Linked DNA regions of Homo sapiens. The protein of the gene in region 1 interacts with the protein of each later gene in a biochemical or structural test. Each region holds a gene or a part of one and is shown on either strand. Other genes may lie near its edges.

What was found. Proteins that work in one complex are often made in the same cells at the same time.
Region 2: the proteins of ESR2 (region 1) and RBFOX2 form a complex in vitro, tested with the Homo sapiens proteins (one study listed by BioGRID).

The regions. Positions count from the first base shown.
Region 1 is NC_000014.9:64,276,124-64,284,484, forward strand, and holds part of ESR2 (estrogen receptor beta), read right to left. Parts: intron 6,953-8,361; 5' UTR 6,863-6,952; coding exon 6,501-6,862; intron 4,031-6,500; coding exon 3,858-4,030; intron 1-3,857.
Region 2 is NC_000022.11:35,759,391-35,767,751, forward strand, and holds part of RBFOX2 (RNA binding protein fox-1 homolog 2), read right to left. Parts: intron 6,094-8,361; coding exon 6,033-6,093; intron 2,079-6,032; coding exon 2,025-2,078; intron 1,905-2,024; coding exon 1,812-1,904; intron 643-1,811; coding exon of another isoform or gene 631-642; coding exon 498-630; intron 1-497. UniProt on the Homo sapiens protein: RNA-binding protein that regulates alternative splicing events by binding to 5'-UGCAUGU-3' elements. Prevents binding of U2AF2 to the 3'-splice site.

The DNA of each region.
Region 1 (8,361 bases):
TAAAAACTATACACAAAACTATCAAAGTTGGTAATATTTGACTATTTAAAGATTAACTATTTCTGCATATCAAAATCAGAGTCAAGTGGAAAAAATATTTGTCATACATGTAATAATAGGTTAATATATAAAGCACACAATAAATTTATCAAGCAAATGCCAGAACCCAATATAAAAACGGGCAAAATCTCTGAATAAAGAAGATAAAAGAGAAAATACAAATGGCAGATAGATTTATGAGAAAACATTTACCTCACTAATAAAGAGAAGCAAATTGAAACCAAAAGATACTATACATCACGTATCAATGTAGCAAGGTTTTTTTCTTTTTGATAAGAGTCAATGCTACCAAGAGGTTGGAAAAAGCGACACTCACACTGCTGGTAAAAGAGCAAGTCTGTACAACCTTCTTAAGACTTGAACACTTGAAAACATCTGTCAAGAACTTTAAACATTAATGCACTCTGACCCCACAGATTTGTTCTAAAAACATATCCAGAGAAACTTATTTTTTTCAAAACTTCATGAACAAATAAAGTAACCATAGCATTAAAACAATGAAAATAATTGATAGGGCCTTCAATAATAAAGAGTTAAATAAATTAAATCTGATCATAAGATAGAATATTACACAGTTGTGCAGTTGTGAAAAGGGTCTCTGGAAATTTAACAACAGAAATGCTTATACGACAATATTAAGTGAAAAATGATACAGAACTCTGTGTATAAGCCCAATTAATTTTGAAAAATCATATTCAAGGAATTGGTAAGTGCCACTAGTGAACAAAATGGACAAAAATCCTTGCCCTCATGGAATCTATAATCTATTGTCTTGTTCACCACTGCATCCGTAGAGCCTGGTACAATGCTCAATAAATATTTGTTAAATGAACACCAATAGGAAAGAGAACAAAAAGTAAAGGATAAGCTCAAAAAATAAGCCATGCTGTCATCTGGACCAGATGAAGTGATGAGGTCCTTCTCCCTATGTCCTCCTTCCTCTGTGCTCCATAACCCAGTAGAGAAACAACAGCACTTATCACTCTGATGGCAACTCATTGTGTGAAGAAGCCAACAAAGTATCAATGGAAAAGCAAGCACAACACAGCTTCCAGTGCATTTGTACAGTGAAGGGGACAGGTACATGACTAAGATATGGTCAATTAGCTTATAAATCAAGTTAGCAAGACAAGTTTAAAATTATAAAAAACATAAGAATGGGCCAGGTGCGGTGGCTCACACCTGTAATCCCAGCACTTTGGGAGGCCGAGGCGGGCGGATCACAAGGTCAGGAGATCGAGACCATCCTGGCTAACATGCCGAAACCCTGTCTCTACTAAAAATACAAAAAATTAGCAGGGTGTGGTGGCCAGCTCCTGTAATCCCAGCTACTTGGGAGTCTGAGGCAGGAGAATGGTGTGAATCTGGGAGGCAGAGCTTGCAGTGAGCCGAGATTGTGCCACTGCACTCCAGCCTGGGTGACAGAATGAGACTCCATCTCCAAAAAAAAAAAAAAAAAAAAAAAAGTTACATGCAAGGAATTTCTCAATACTGTACCATCCTGGCCTATTTGAGACAATTTTAAAAATAAGTGGCCACTTTCAGTTACTGTAATGCACTTATATCAAAGACAGGAAGCATGCAAAGAAAGGATCATTTAGGCACTACAACTGTACAACTGTAACAGCTTTAACTCTTTCCTCTTTGCACATTTAGAATTTGACATTCCTGTCTGATGCAGCAGGAAGGAAGAAACAACATAGAGAAGCAAAGGAAATTTACTTTCAATTGTTATTAGCTGTAGTCTCAGGGGTCAAAGATGTTTCAAGCAGACCAATGTTTCCCCAAAAGCAAAAAAAAAAAAGAAGGATCTCTTTTTAAAAGATATGGTTAGTAGTAATAGGTCCAAACGTTCTTAAGGGGTAAAATCCTAGAAACTCAGCAAGATACAAAATAGTCATCGTATCAAGAATTCAGTTCAGAATTTCAGAAAATCAATATTGTTCTTATCATATAGCCAGGAAATGGACTTGGCCTTATAATCTACTGTTAAGATTGTCACAAATAAAATATTTGAGCACTGAATATGTTTTCATATAATCAACCTTATTTCATCTTTAGAAAATCCCTATGAGTATCTCCATTTCACAGAGGAGGAAACAGGCTAGGAGGTGAAGTCGCAGAGCTAGTAATTATAAAATCCAGGACAAAGAGGCTGCCATTCATACAGGGTGAATTTCAGGGGACAGGTAGGAAGGTGACTACCAACATTTCACTCCTCACCATATCCTGGATTCTATCAGTATTTCTCTGCTTAAGGTAAAACATCCTCTTAGAGTTATCAATGGGTGAGTTAATTTAGTAAATTGCTATTTGCCATTTACACACTATGAATTCTCTCAACGTTGCTTTTCTTAACTGGCAAAGAACAAAGCATTGGGGCTTTGATAGAAAAAGGAAGGGAGCTTTCAGATGGAAACATAGGGTGTTGCCTGGGAGGGAGCAGTTGAGGGACAGGTTATGGGGCAAATAGAGAAAACAAGAGTAAGCAAGAAAGTGACTTCAGCAAATCAGGGCTGGTACGAGAGAAGGAGTGTAGCAAAGACACATGCAGGGAGATGAGCTGACCAGCCTTGAAATCAGGGGTGCACAACTTGAAGTTTATAAACCAAAAAATAAAATTCTAAGGCCCCTCAACCATCTGAATGGGTCCCTCCTCTTGGCCAAGGGCATTACAAAGTTAACCTGAAAAATAAGTTTAGGCCATGATGGAACAAGGGAGACAGACATGGTTCATTATACCCTCCCTCCCCTTTTGGAATCACTGATAGAACAGACCCTTTAAGACCCCTAAGAAATATTTACAATCTATTCTCTCTGAAGCCTGCTACCTGGAGGCTTCATCTGCATGATAAAACCTTGGTCTCCACAATCCCTTATTGTAACCCAATCATTGCTTCCTACTGATAATAATTCTTTCAATCAATTGCCAATCAGAAAATCTTTGAACTGCCTGTGACTTGGAAGCCCCTGCTTTCAGGTGTCCTGCCTTTTCAGGCTGAATCAATGTACATCTTACATGCATTGATTAATGCCTTATGTCTCCCTAAAATGTATAAGACCAAGTTGTGGCCTGACCACCTTGGGCACATGTTCTCAGATCTCCTGAGGGCTATGTCACAGGCCATTTGTCACTCATATTTGGCTCAGAATAAATCTCTTCAAATATTTTACAGAGTTTGATTCTTTTCATCAACAAGTTGATTTAAAAAAAAAAATCCAGAAGGCGTTTAGAGAAAGTTAGGGAAATAATCTAAACACAGCCCAGAAAACAAGGGGATTGTGAACTGAGACCCTCCTAGCCTAGGGGAAGAAATGTGTCTAGATCAATTCTCAAAGTCCACTGTAGCTGAATTCCTGATTTCTGACCATTTCCAAAAAATGTGTTTATTCTTTCTTCCTCAGGAGCCAGCCCACCATCATGACTGTTAAGCATGCTATATATTAAATTTAAGTAAAAGAAAGAAACAATCTTTGCAACTCCTTGTGAGCACATTTTTTCCAAGAGACATCTTCACAAGGTTGTAACTCGATGTCTTCTATCCAACACCCATGTGGGTGAACGAGGGGTAAGACCCATTCGAGTTGGCTGTATAATCTTGGGGTTCTGGGGTAGAAATCTGCAATTCCACCCCACCACCCAACCCACTTCCAAACACACATGATCCTCTGAACTGCTCATCAAATACTTTGTGTGCCAAACAGGCCAGTAGTGACATTTCTGCCAAGTCATCTCTGCAAAATTGTTTGAAATCAAAAGTAGGAAACTAAAGAAGCAGTTAACAATTCTCTTGTACCTTGAATGCTTCTTTTAAAAAAGGCCTTACATCCTTCACACGACCAGACTCCATAGTGATATCCCGATGCGTAATCGCTGCAGACAGCGCAGAAGTGAGCATCCCTCTTTGAACCTGGACCAGTAACAGGGCTGGCGCAACGGTTCCCACTAACCTTCCTTTTCAGTGTCTCTCTAGGGAGCAAAGAAAATATCCATTGAACAGAGCATAAAAGGGAAAGGAAGGGCTTTCTAGGAAAAAAAAATAGCATGAACATTGCCTAATTTAATCTCTTTTTCCTCCAGGGTTCCTGGTAAATATATTCCCGGAAATCTGATACAGCAAAGCTTTTGATACTGATATCATATCTACAAAGAGCCACGCTGTGGGGAATGACTAATGTTTGAAAGTGGGTAGGTGAGTTTATGCCCATCCACGTGATGCTGATGAGCATTTGTCACTGCCGAAGACCAGTCATAGCCATGGGGTGGGAGCTACATCTCTAAGTGTAATGAAAGGAGTGGCCAGATCAAATCTTACCCACAGGTCTGAACCACAGGCAGGATATGCATTGGTCTTCTGTAGTTACTAGAGTTCACGAATGCTGCATGGATGGGTGTGAAGGCATTCAACCACTTCCAAACATCAGTCATTCCCAACAGCATTGCTAAGCAGCCCTTCAGACATTTGAAGTTCCCATTTAAATGGAGAACAAACATCTCACACTCTGCAATTTCAGATAAAGGTCTAGATTTAAAATAACTTTCAGGTTGGGCGCAATGGTTCATGCCTGTAATCCTAGCACATTGGGGAGCCAAGGTGGGCGTATCACCTGAGGCCAGAAGTTCGAGACCAGCTTGGCCAACAAGGTGAAACCCTATCTCTACTAAAAATACAAAAATTAGCCAGACATGGTGGTGCACACCTGTAATCCCAGCTACTTTGGAGGATGAAGCAGGAGATTGCTTGAACCCGGGAGGCAGAGGTTGCAGTGAGCCAAGACTGTGCCACTGCACTCCAGCCTGGGCAACAGAGTGAGACTCCATCTCAAAAAAATAAAATAAAAATAACTTTAAGAGGAATAACAAATGGACTTTAAGTTACCTTGAGATGAATGTGAGACAAGAAAAAGGGGGAAGAGAAGAGAAAGGGAGAGAGAAAAAAGAAGAGAGAAGAGAAGAGAGAGAACAAGCAAGTGCCTGGCCTGGAAAGGCTTGGAAGGAAGCAGAGGCTCAATGCTGGACCACAGGCAAGAGGTTCATAAAGGAACGAAAAGTCTAACAAGGGATCCCCAGGCAGCCTCCAAAACACATCTGGCTAGTTCCTGATGTTGCCAGGCATGGTTCTTTTGGAAAGGGAATGGTAAAGGTATTATTGATTTATAAATGAAGGTAATTATATAATGGATTAATTTGCCCAAAAATTAGCAGAACTTTGATTATAATTCATGCTCAGAAACAAAATATGTCTTCCTTTAAAGGAGGAAGGAGAAAAAAAAAACAAACCATTACTTTAAAAAAGTTATCCACAATGTTTATATTCTCTTTACCAATGAGTAAAATGTTTTTAAAAGAAGAAAAATAATGGTGCAATGTTACTGTCTCAAAGTTTTATGATAATATTTGAAAGTAGTGAATTTCAATATCCAACATGCCCTTAGTACTTTTAGATTTTTATCTCCCCCTCTCCTTTCTCATTATACTATCCATTCCCTTCATACCTATGATTATCATTAGAAATATTAATAATTAGATGGAAATAATCCATTATGTTACCTTGCATTTAAAGAGTACACATATCCTTTTTAACTTCAGGGAATGTCAACTGAAGCCTAAACTTCAATAGTTTCCACCAATCTTTATATAATGTTATTATTTTAGTTCATGGTTAAAAAGCTTATACCAATCATCTATCTTTTCATGCTTCGCATGTCTAGAATTTCATTTAAGTTGTAATACTATCACAGTTACTTTTATCCTGGAAACAATTTGTCATGAACATTAAATTGTGGTTTCACTATAAGAAGACTTTGAAACTGAAAGTAAAGTAAAAATTCATTTTTCAAATCCAAATAACTCCATTAAGAGTGACTTAAGTTCAGACCAGGCACAGTGTTCATCACGTCTGTAATCCCAGCACTTTGGGAGGCCAAGGCAGGTGGATCATTTGAGGTCAGGAGTTCAAGACCAGCCTAGCCAACATGGTGAAACCCTGTCTCTACTAAAAATTTAAAAAATGAGCTGGGCGTGGTGGCACGCGCCTGTAATCCCAGCTACTCGGGAGACTAAGGCACGAGAATTGCTTGAACCCAGGAGGTGAAGGTTGCAGTGAGCCGCAATCGTGCCATTATACTCCAGTCTGAGTGACAGAGCGAGACCCTGTCTCAAAAAAAGAAAAGGAGTGACTTAAGTTCAGTATTTACTGTATAAAGACAATAGTCATGATAGCAAATTCTCCCCACAACACTGATGTACACATACCAGTTTTTAATGAGAACTAAAATATCAGAATAGAACAGGGCATCCTGTGTTTTGGGTGCTGTAAGTAAACTATGTAATTAATACAATAAAGACCTTGTCTAACATATTATTTCCTTCTCACTCAACCATAAAGTGATTTGAGAAATGGCTAGCAACTATAATTCAGAATGAAGACTGGACTTACCTGTTTACAGGTAAGGTGTGTTCTAGCGATCTTGCTTCACACCAGGGACTCTTTTGAGGTTCCGCATACAGATGTGATAACTGGCGATGGACCACTAAAGGAGAAAGGTGCCCAGGTGTTGGCCACAACACATTTGGGCTTGTGGTCTGCCGACCAGGCCCACCTTCCAAGTTAGTGACATTGCTGGGAATGCTGTAATTCATCACAGCAGGGCTATAGAATGTCATGGCTGGATATTCATGGTGGCTGTCTACATAGGAGGAAGGTATGTATATGGAGCCGTGCTCCAGGGGTAAGATGGATTGACTGCAGTTGTAGGAGGAAGGAGAATTAAGGCTAGATGGTGAGTTTTTTATATCCATGTCTTGAGATAACAGCTGAGAAAACACCTTGCAAGAAGAGGCACAAAGGTCATTATAATGTTCTCAAAGATTCGTGGGCAAGTATAATGGCTGTAAAGAAACACAGAAGATATTGCCAAGTTAGAGCTACAGCTGTTAACTATGAAAATTTAAATATTTTCATTAAAAAAATACATACGTTTGTATGAGATTACAAATACATCCTGAAAAATATACATGAAAATATTAACCTCAGAGGAGTGGGAATGTGAGGCATGAAACTCACATTTTCTGCTTCATTCATCTCTTCATTGCTTGTTTGTTTAATCAAGAGTTTAAGCACAAGAGTTTAATCACGAAAATTTATTATAAAATAGTCTTTAAAACCAAAAAACACAGGATTAAATAAAAATGAAAGTTCTTATGGAAAAATAAGCAAGAATAACCAAGTAAACGCTAAGAGAAGATCAATGAGCAAGGCTAGTCTCAACCAATATTAAAATACGCTATGAGGCCAAGCGTAGTGGCTCACGCCTGTAATCCCAATACTTTGGGAGGCTGAGGTGGGCAGATTACTTGAGGTCAGGAGTTCGAGACCAGCCTGGGCAACATGGTGAAACCCCGTCTCTACTAAAAATTAGCCAGGAATGGTGGCATGTGCCTGTTGTCCCAGCTACTCAAGAGGCTGAGGTGTGATTGCTCAAGCCCAGGAGGCAGAGGTTGTAGTGAGCAGAGATTGTGCCACCGCGCTCCAGCCTGGGTGATAGAGTGAGACCCTGTCTCAAAAAAAAAAAAAAAAAAAAAAAAAGAGAGAAATTACCATTTCCGAAAAAAGTTTTTAAAAGAAAGAAAACACATTATGAATCTCCAATAATAAAAAACAATGGGTATTAGCTGAAGAGACTGACCAGTGTAACTGTGTCACTTATCAATCTGTTGCTTCTCAGTTTTGTTTTGTTTTGGTTTTGTCTTTGTTTTTGAGACAAGGTCTCACTCTGTCACCCAGGCTGGAGTGCAGTGGCATGATCTCGGCTCACTGCAACCTCCTGCCTCCCAGGTTCTAGTGATTCTCCTGCCTCAGCCTCACGAGTAGCTGAGACTATGGGTGCGCACCACTGTGACTGGCTAATTTGTTGTATTTTTTAGTAGGGATGGGGTTTCACCACGTTGGCCAGGCTGGTCTCAAACTCCTGATCTCGAGTGATCCACCTGCCTCGGTCTCCCAAAGTGCTGGGATTACAGGCATAAGTCACCATGCCTGGCCTACGTATCAGTTTTGAATGTGCCCTTCAATTTATGCTCTAAAAAACAGAATTTTTGTATGTAAAGTGAGCACAAGGCTGGGGGTGCTGGCTGATTACAGGCAAATCTTTTTTTTTGAGATGGAGTTTCACTCTTGTTGCCTAGGCTGGAGTGCAATGGCGCCATATCAGCTCACTGCAATCTCTGCCTCCCAGGTTCAAGCAATTATCATGTCTCAGCCTCCTGAGTAGCTGGGATTACAGGCATACACCACCACA
Region 2 (8,361 bases), on another chromosome or scaffold:
AAATCCATTGTGGGTAACTAGCTCTGCTGCTCACCACCCAGGCAGTGAAACCAAAGGGGAGGACACATGTGACAGCCTCTGCCCCAACACGGGGTGGTGATAAGGAGGTGAACACAGCAGATGCAGGCTTGTACTACAATCTTGAGCTCCTCTTTTGGTTCTCTGCAGTAATGTTAATCCATATTCGTGCGCTTCTGAGTGAACTTCATGCCAACACACTGCTAGTAAACACAAGACGGTTCTGGCTACTGTCTTAAGCCATTACCATGAGGGCTTAAGGTGGCCAAAATGAAGACTTATAATGAATTGACAGTTTGTCACATTCTGATGATGGTATATTTTGTTTTTTGTCATCTAATCTGTTAATTTGCAAATATTCACTGAATGCCTACTCTGTGACACGGCAACATCCCAGAAGTTATGAAAGGGCCATGGTATTCTTTTTTGGTCCAACTGCTTATTTTAGAAACATACTGATTTTGGAATCTAACGCTTACCCTGGATAGGCGGGGATGGCTGTTGGAGGTACCGCTCGGACTGCACCATATACTGTCCGCCCTCTGCCCCTCAAATGGGCTCCTCTGAAAGCGGCTGCCGTGGTGGCTGCAGTAGGGTAAGGGAAGCCAGGAACTAAAGGGAGACCCAAAATATGACAGAAATTTCAACTTGCATTCAATAGAAGGTGCACAGTCACAACTTGCTATGAACCAATTATAGAAAAGATGGAAAGATACGAACCACACCTTTTTGGAAAAGGTGGCATGCATTCAATAAACGTTCTACCCTGGGTCTCTCAGTGGGGAAGAAATGGAAAGAGAGACCCAACATGCAAAAGCAAAAGATTCCATGCCTCATTCATCACAAATCTTGAGTGAGCTTCTCTGTTCCTTCTCAATTTCAGCTTTACAATGCAAGCTGCTGAGAAACAGGTCAAGAAGCTCTGAGAATGACTGCCATAATAAGAGACAGACTTTTAATTACTGTGGGCAGTCTAAATCAGATTGACACAAACTCTTCAACCGGTCAGTTATTAACCTTGCTTCCCAATGTTACTATGTCCACATAATAATTATTACTCAAAAGAACATTCTTTTTATATTTTTACATGGTACCAACCTCTAAGGCACATAATAGTCTTTAGACATTTCATTTCATTAGTCAATTTCATTCTTTTATTTAAAACATTTTAATCCACAAATGTAAGGTGAGGGAAACAACTCCTACCCTGTCCTTTAAAGAGGCAGACAATTTCTAGGGGCCTCATATCCTTTAAAGAGGCAGACAATTTCTAAGAGCCTATTTTAAGTGTGCTGTCCTCTGGAAAGCATGCAGAGACATTGATTCCATGTCCACTGAATCCTGTTTAATTATACCTCTTGCTGGAGTAAAATGGCTCAGGTCAAAATGACTTAGAGAGATCAAGAGAGCTGGGAATAATCAATAATACTGGAAGTACTTCTAAGTGATCCTCTGCTGGAGAACCTGTGGCTGACTCGCAGAGGAAATGTATAATATGCTCTACACATACTTGCTTCTTTTGTTTTCTTTATCGTCAAGTACAGACTAAAATATTCTTCATATGCCCTTACCCCCTCTACCTTTTCCAACTATTTCTGCTTTGTGCAATCTTAATATTTGGTCAGGAAAATTCTAGCACAGGTTAAGCAGGACAGGGCACTGGGATAGTATTTAATATCCCTCTCAAGAAATTTCCATTTCAGTTATGTACTGTACTAGGAAAAAAAAAAACAGTACATGATAGTTCACTCACAACAGTCAAAATCCATGCCAGGCCAACATAGGCTACTTACTGATTAAAGGAATGTAAGTGTTGATACCCCCTCTTCCTGATAGGGGCACTGCTGCATCATTGCCTAGGGACACATCTGCTTGAAAGCTGGATGCTGATTGGATTTTTAAAAAATTTAAAAATGCAAGAAGATTAAAAAGGAGTCACAAATTGAAAAACAGCAGATGCTATTACAATTAAATAGCACAAGTGGAAACATTTACTTAAATACTACCTGCATATAACTCCGGACCATATACAGCTCCAACTACTGGGCTTAATTTCCAACCTGAAACACACAAAATGGAAGGTAAGCATTTAAGACTGTTTGAGGAAAGGGATGATCAGTGCATGTCAAGTTGGCTTCAGCCATCTCTGGGGCTATTTTTGCCTATTATCAACTTCTCTTTGGAATTCCAGCTTGGGGTTTATATGAGAGAGTAACAGTAGTAGAACTAGGACACAGTGAAGAGATAATGAGGGGCTGGGGCTGGGGGGCTTGGCAGGTGTCATGATGTTGGGAGGAGGAAGATGGAGAGGGAATGAGAGGAGAAAAAATAAATAGAAATAAATCCTAGAGTTTGGTAAAGTGTTCTCACAGAATTACCCTGGATGACCTATCCTTCATTTAAAAAAAGAAGGCCGACTATATGTCACTCTGAACCATGCTGTGATGCATTTTCTCAACCCTGTTTATTACTCTAGTTGTTTTAATAAAGGTATCCATGGGCTGAACTCAAATTCAACCTAGATCTTTGACTCCATGTTTGGCTATACAATGCTGGTATTCCAGGTAAACTGAAATCCACTTTTACTCGGATTTACCATTGGGATTTTACTGGGGTTCACCAACTAAAAAAGGAAAGACATGAAATAGTAAAATTCAAGGTACATTCCCAACTTCAGTGCATGTTTTCTGAGGCTTTAATGTGTAATAATCACCTTTAAGTTAATCAGACTTCTTAGCTAAAGAACACCAGAATACTGTGGAACATTAGCTTAAATATTTATAAATATTAAGAGTTTCCAAATAACATTATGTTTAATGTCAACTTTATTTCTTCTTTCCCTTTTTTATATTTATAGGAATATGGCAAGTATTTTTTAAAAAGGAATAATATACGATTGCTCACTGCGAGTGAATAAAAGTAGAATTCCACATGAAAACTTTAATCAATATTAACTGAATTTTACATATAAGCAAAAATACTCTATATTATATATTTTCTGACTCATTTGTCTTTTTATATTAAGACCCTAGCATTGTGCCACACTATTCTATAAATATACGAATGAAAAGAAAAAGGCCAGAATTGGCCTCCTCTTTTTTTTTTTTTTTTTTTTTGAGACAGAGTCTTGCTCTGTCACCCAGGCTGGAGTGCAGTGGCGCAGTTTCGGCTCACCACAACCTCGGCTCCTGGGTTCAAGTGATTCTCATGCCTCAGCCTCCCAAGTAGCTGGGACTACAGGCACGTGCCACCATGCCTGGCTAGTTTTATACTTTTAGTAGAGATGGGGTTTCACCATGTTGGCCAGGCTGGTCTTGAACTCCTAACCTCAGGTGATCCACCCGCCTCAGCCTCCCAGAGTGCTGGGGATTACAGGCTTGAGCCACTGCGTCCAGCCACAATTGGCCTTTTCAAAAGAATTATTGAAATTACCAGATTTAAATGACTGTAAGCAAGACATTATTCAAGTGAAAACCTATTCACTCTGATTCAATCCAATCTCTTATTCATCATTTTATGTGCTCATAAAATGCAATGTCTCTTCAATATTCCACATAAAATTCTGGCAAAATCTAGGTTCAAATCCTACTTGAATTGTAAGAACACAAATATTCTGCAACATCAAATTACACAAATACTGTGCAACATTTCTGCACAAATTAAGAGATTCCAACCAACCTAAATGAGAATGCTGACTGAGAATTCATTAGGAGGAACCCAACAAATTCTTCTTAGGACCTTTAACACAATAGCAGAAGGTTTCTTGCCTACTAAACCTGAATATTAATTTAGAATAATATTTTAAAAAATAACCTTTTTCTTTCCTACCAATGCCACTATTGCCTGAGCATTCCCTTTAAATCCACATAATGGGCAGGCACCGTAGCTCAAGCCTGTAATCCCAGCACTTTGGGAGGCTGAGGCGGAGGGATCACCTGAGTCTAGGAGCTCGAGACCAGCCTGGCCAACATGGCAAAACCTCGTCTCTACTAAAAATACAAAAATTAGCCGGATGTGGTGGCACACACCTGTAATCCCAGCTACTCTGGAGGCTGAGGCACGAGTATCGCTTGAACCCGGGAAGTGGAGGTTGCAGTGAGCTGAGATCGCACCACTGTACTCCAGCCTAGGTGACAGAGAGACTCTGCCTCAAAACAAAAACAAAAATCAATATAATGGATGTATATTGACATGTTGTTAGTAATACTTTGAATATATTTAGTTTTAGAAAATTTACAATGTATTTTCACAGATGCCCTTTGACCTTCACAAAACCCAAAGAGGAAGGTAAAATAGATACCACATCTGCAATCTGAGGTCAATACTATACTTTTCTGGGTCTCATTTCCTAATAATAAGCTGGGAGGGTTGAGTTTCAATAATTTCTTAAAAAATCCTGGTGCCAAAAATCTGTGGTCTCAATTTATAAATATGAAAACAGAATTAGGTTAAAAAACTGGTCCACTGTCACGGAGTAAATAAAGAGTCAAACCTAGAAGGAGAACGTCTGTTTTCTGAATTCCAGTCAGAGGCTCTTTCTGTCACAATATTTCCCTTAGATGTAAAGAAAATTTGACATTCTTTGCCTCTCCTTTCTATTTTGTTTACTTTGAGTTTTTATCAAAATTGTAGAGACTTGTTTTTGTAAGAGCAGTGAAAAGAAAATAAGAGGTAAAGTGGGAGGCAGTGGTATCATACCGATAAAAGGAGTAAGGAAAAATGCAAATTATGCTGATAAATTTGTATCATCTATGTGAAAAGCTGGGCTAAATATATTTATTGAAGACTTTATGGGATATAGTCAATACGGATACATTTCTCCTTGATTTAAGACATTATTAGCACATACAGCCATACTCTAGCAGTGGGTTCAAACTTTTTAAAAAAACAGCAGAGCCAGGCATGGTGGCTCACGCCTGTAATCCCAGCACTTTGGGAGGCCACGGTGGGCGGATCACGAGGTCAGGAGGTTGAGACCATCCTGGCTAACACGGTGAAACCCCATCTCTACTAAAAATACAAAAAATTAGCCAGGTGTGGTGGCGGGCGCCTGTAGTCCCAGCTACTCGGGAGGCTGAGGGCAGGAGAATGGCGTGAACCTGGGAAGCAGAGCTTGCAGTGAGCCTTGATTGCGCCAGTGCACTCCAGCCTGGGTGACAAAGCGAGACTCCGTCTCAAAAAAAAAAAAAAAAAAACTCCAGCAGAAACTCCCCCCTTTATTCTAGATATTAGTAAAAGCTTATGCAGAACCCTAATTGCTCAGACTAAAGTACAGCTGAGACCTCAGAATTCAATCCATTTGGTTTCCTTTTTCTCTCCCAAACTGGCTCTGCAGAACAGTCTGCAAAACCACCACTGGGCTACAGATTAAATTTATATTCCATCTCATTCAGAGACCATGAGTCTAGATTAAATTTGGTAACTGATGTAACAAATTATTCATAGAAAATTTCCTTCTCAATGAGAAAAACTTATAAACCTTACTATATAATATGTAATCATGAAACAGAAAATGATACACACACAACCATACCCATGGCTGTTATCTCTAGGGCTAAGGAGAGCAACAGGTCCAGAATTATAAAAGTGATTAAAATATCCTCCTAATTTATTCCACTTATGCTCAGATGAATGAAAGTCAGAACTAAAAGTAAGAGTCAGTGGGCATCCAGGGGTATTACGGACAAGTCTAACATATTAGAAAGAGCTACAGCAGCTGAAAAAGAAGGTGCTCAGGTGGGATCCAATTTGGGTTAATAGGCAACTAGATAGCATGTTTGCACTGTGTAAAAGATGAACATTACTTAGAACATAACACCTTAATAACTAAAAACTTAGCTCAATTGTAATGACAAAGTTATTCTGTAAAAATAAAATACTCTCCCAGGTAAAGAGACTACTTCAACACAAATCAAACTGTCTTAAGACGGAAATAAAGACATTCTTAGAAGTTTATAAAAACTTCATATATTTACACAAGAATAAACACTCTTTCGAAGATTATAATTTCTTACCATTTGCATATGGTGTGACCATCTTCTTATTGGTCATTACACGTGCTGTAGCATTATTCACCTAAAAATAACAAGGAGAAAAAAGGGCAGGGAAGAAGTGGACCACATTAGGGAACATAAAGTTGCACATCCAATAACAGAGTATTTAGTTTAAAATGTAAATTTCTGAGAGCAGTGATTTAAATAATTAACACAGCAATATAAAATATTAATATATAGTATTTTAATTAAAGTTCTTATCAAATGAGGATAACAAGAGTAAAGTGAGTTTCTTGGTTTCCAAATATCAGTACTCCAAAGAAAATACATTTGCAAGATCTTTGGACATCTTTTTAACAGAGAAATCTCTGCACTAAGGAAAACACAGAAAAAAGTAAATAGGAAACTATATTAGCAATTCACTTTGAAGTCTGTTAATAAAACAGAGGCTTGCCACATGGGTTATGAAATAGATTGATGGAAAGGTGATAAAATAAATCTGATTTCACCTGTCCTAATGTTCAGCATTTTAAATATGTCTGTCAGAGATTTTTACTGTCTGAGGTAAGTAAACAAATATAGAAACCTAAGATTCCCCTGCTGACAGCCTTCAGGACCATTCTGAATTTTCTAGACTACATGGTCTATCAATTTAAGAACAAAGCTTTTAAGAAAGCCTTTAAAGTAGGCACTTAAAAGAATTGAGAAAATAAAGTGTTTATTTATTTTGTTTTATGGTACTCTCCACCCTCATTACAGAACTGCATATTTTAAAGCATTCTCAGTGCTAGAGTAAGTAGGTGTTACAAAGATGCTGCTGCTGAAGAAAAGATGAATGGAACTAAGATGTCAGCATACTGCAGCCCAGTGACAGAACCAGTCTCAAAGCTCTTGCAAGGAGGGTAAAGCTCCACCATAGAACTTGACTTATACTGTGTTGTCAGGTCATAAAACATGCCAATTGAAAAAAGAAGCATAAAATATAAATGTCTTATTTTTGCCTCTTCAAATTTACATTGTGTTCAATTTGTATGGTAATAAATTTTTGTTATGAAAAGACCAATTTTAGGTAGAATTAGAACTAAAAAAAAAACCTCTTCCTATGTCTTTTAAGATTTGTACAGTGATAATCCCCCATATGAGGAAAGAGCTTGAAACTCCATTTACTCTAGCTTCGCCCACCAAATAATATAAACGTTTCACATTTAAAAAGAAAGAATGGGATACAACAATGATGAGACTGAGAGCATGCAGTTAAAAAACACACACACACAAATAAAAGAAAGAAAAAACAATCAATTTTGGAAAGAGGGGAGAAACTGAAAAGCAAGGTTCTCACAGACAAGGATTAGAATGGAGCAAGAGCTGAAACCAGCTGCTGGAGCAGAAAGCAACCAAGCACTTAAAAGGAAAAATGGCCAGAACCAATCAGAAACCACCAGTCAGCAAAAGAGACCAACAGCTGCGTGTAACTGAAGGGATGGGAAAGGAAGAATAGGGAAAGGGACAGGAACAAGGATCCGGAAAAAGAGAGTAAGGTAGGGAAAAAGAAAAGAGAAAGTCAGGAAGGGTGTAACGGGCAAAGAAAGAACAGTCAGAGCTACAAACGGGGGTTTGGGAAACAGGAAAAGTAGGGAAGGATGTAGGGGCAGGAAGTGCATTAATAAAACCAGCCAAACTGGAGTTCAGTAACTCTGAGTAAGATGTGCAAGGGGAAAAAAATCACCATGAAGTCAGTAATCAAACAGCTCAGACCGCTACAAAACAATATGTACATCCAAAATCCAGGCGGCATTACTCAACAGCATTGAAAATAAAAGGGGGAAAGGAAAAGGAAGAGGAACAACAAGTCAAATCACATTTTGTAGTGTTAATGTGAGATGGCAGATGGACTTTTTCTTTCTTATTTAATTGTTTTGTAATTACATTTTTAAAAGCTTCTTCTCTAGTGCTTTTGTTCACTTACCGCCAACGGGCACCATCGCCAGCATTGTGTATAGTTACCATGGAAAGAGTGAGTCAAGTGAAGGGCCCTAAATGCTAAACCATTGGAAAGGAGGGGAAAAAAAGCAAAATATGCAGACATCTTACTCAAAATGGTGGCTTTTACATTTAATACTTTAAAAAATTGGGAAAGGGGAAAGGAGCCAGTTAACCTTCGATGTGTTATCAAAAAGGGCTGGTGAATACCAGGCGGTAGACTTGGTCATAATCACAGTACATTCGCCAGCCAGCCATCATACCCTCTGTTTAAGAATTTTATCCATAAAAATTTAGATACCAAAATTCTTGGTATTAGATATATTTAAAAACTACACGAGTTTTGGATTATTTCCTCCCTCCCCACAAT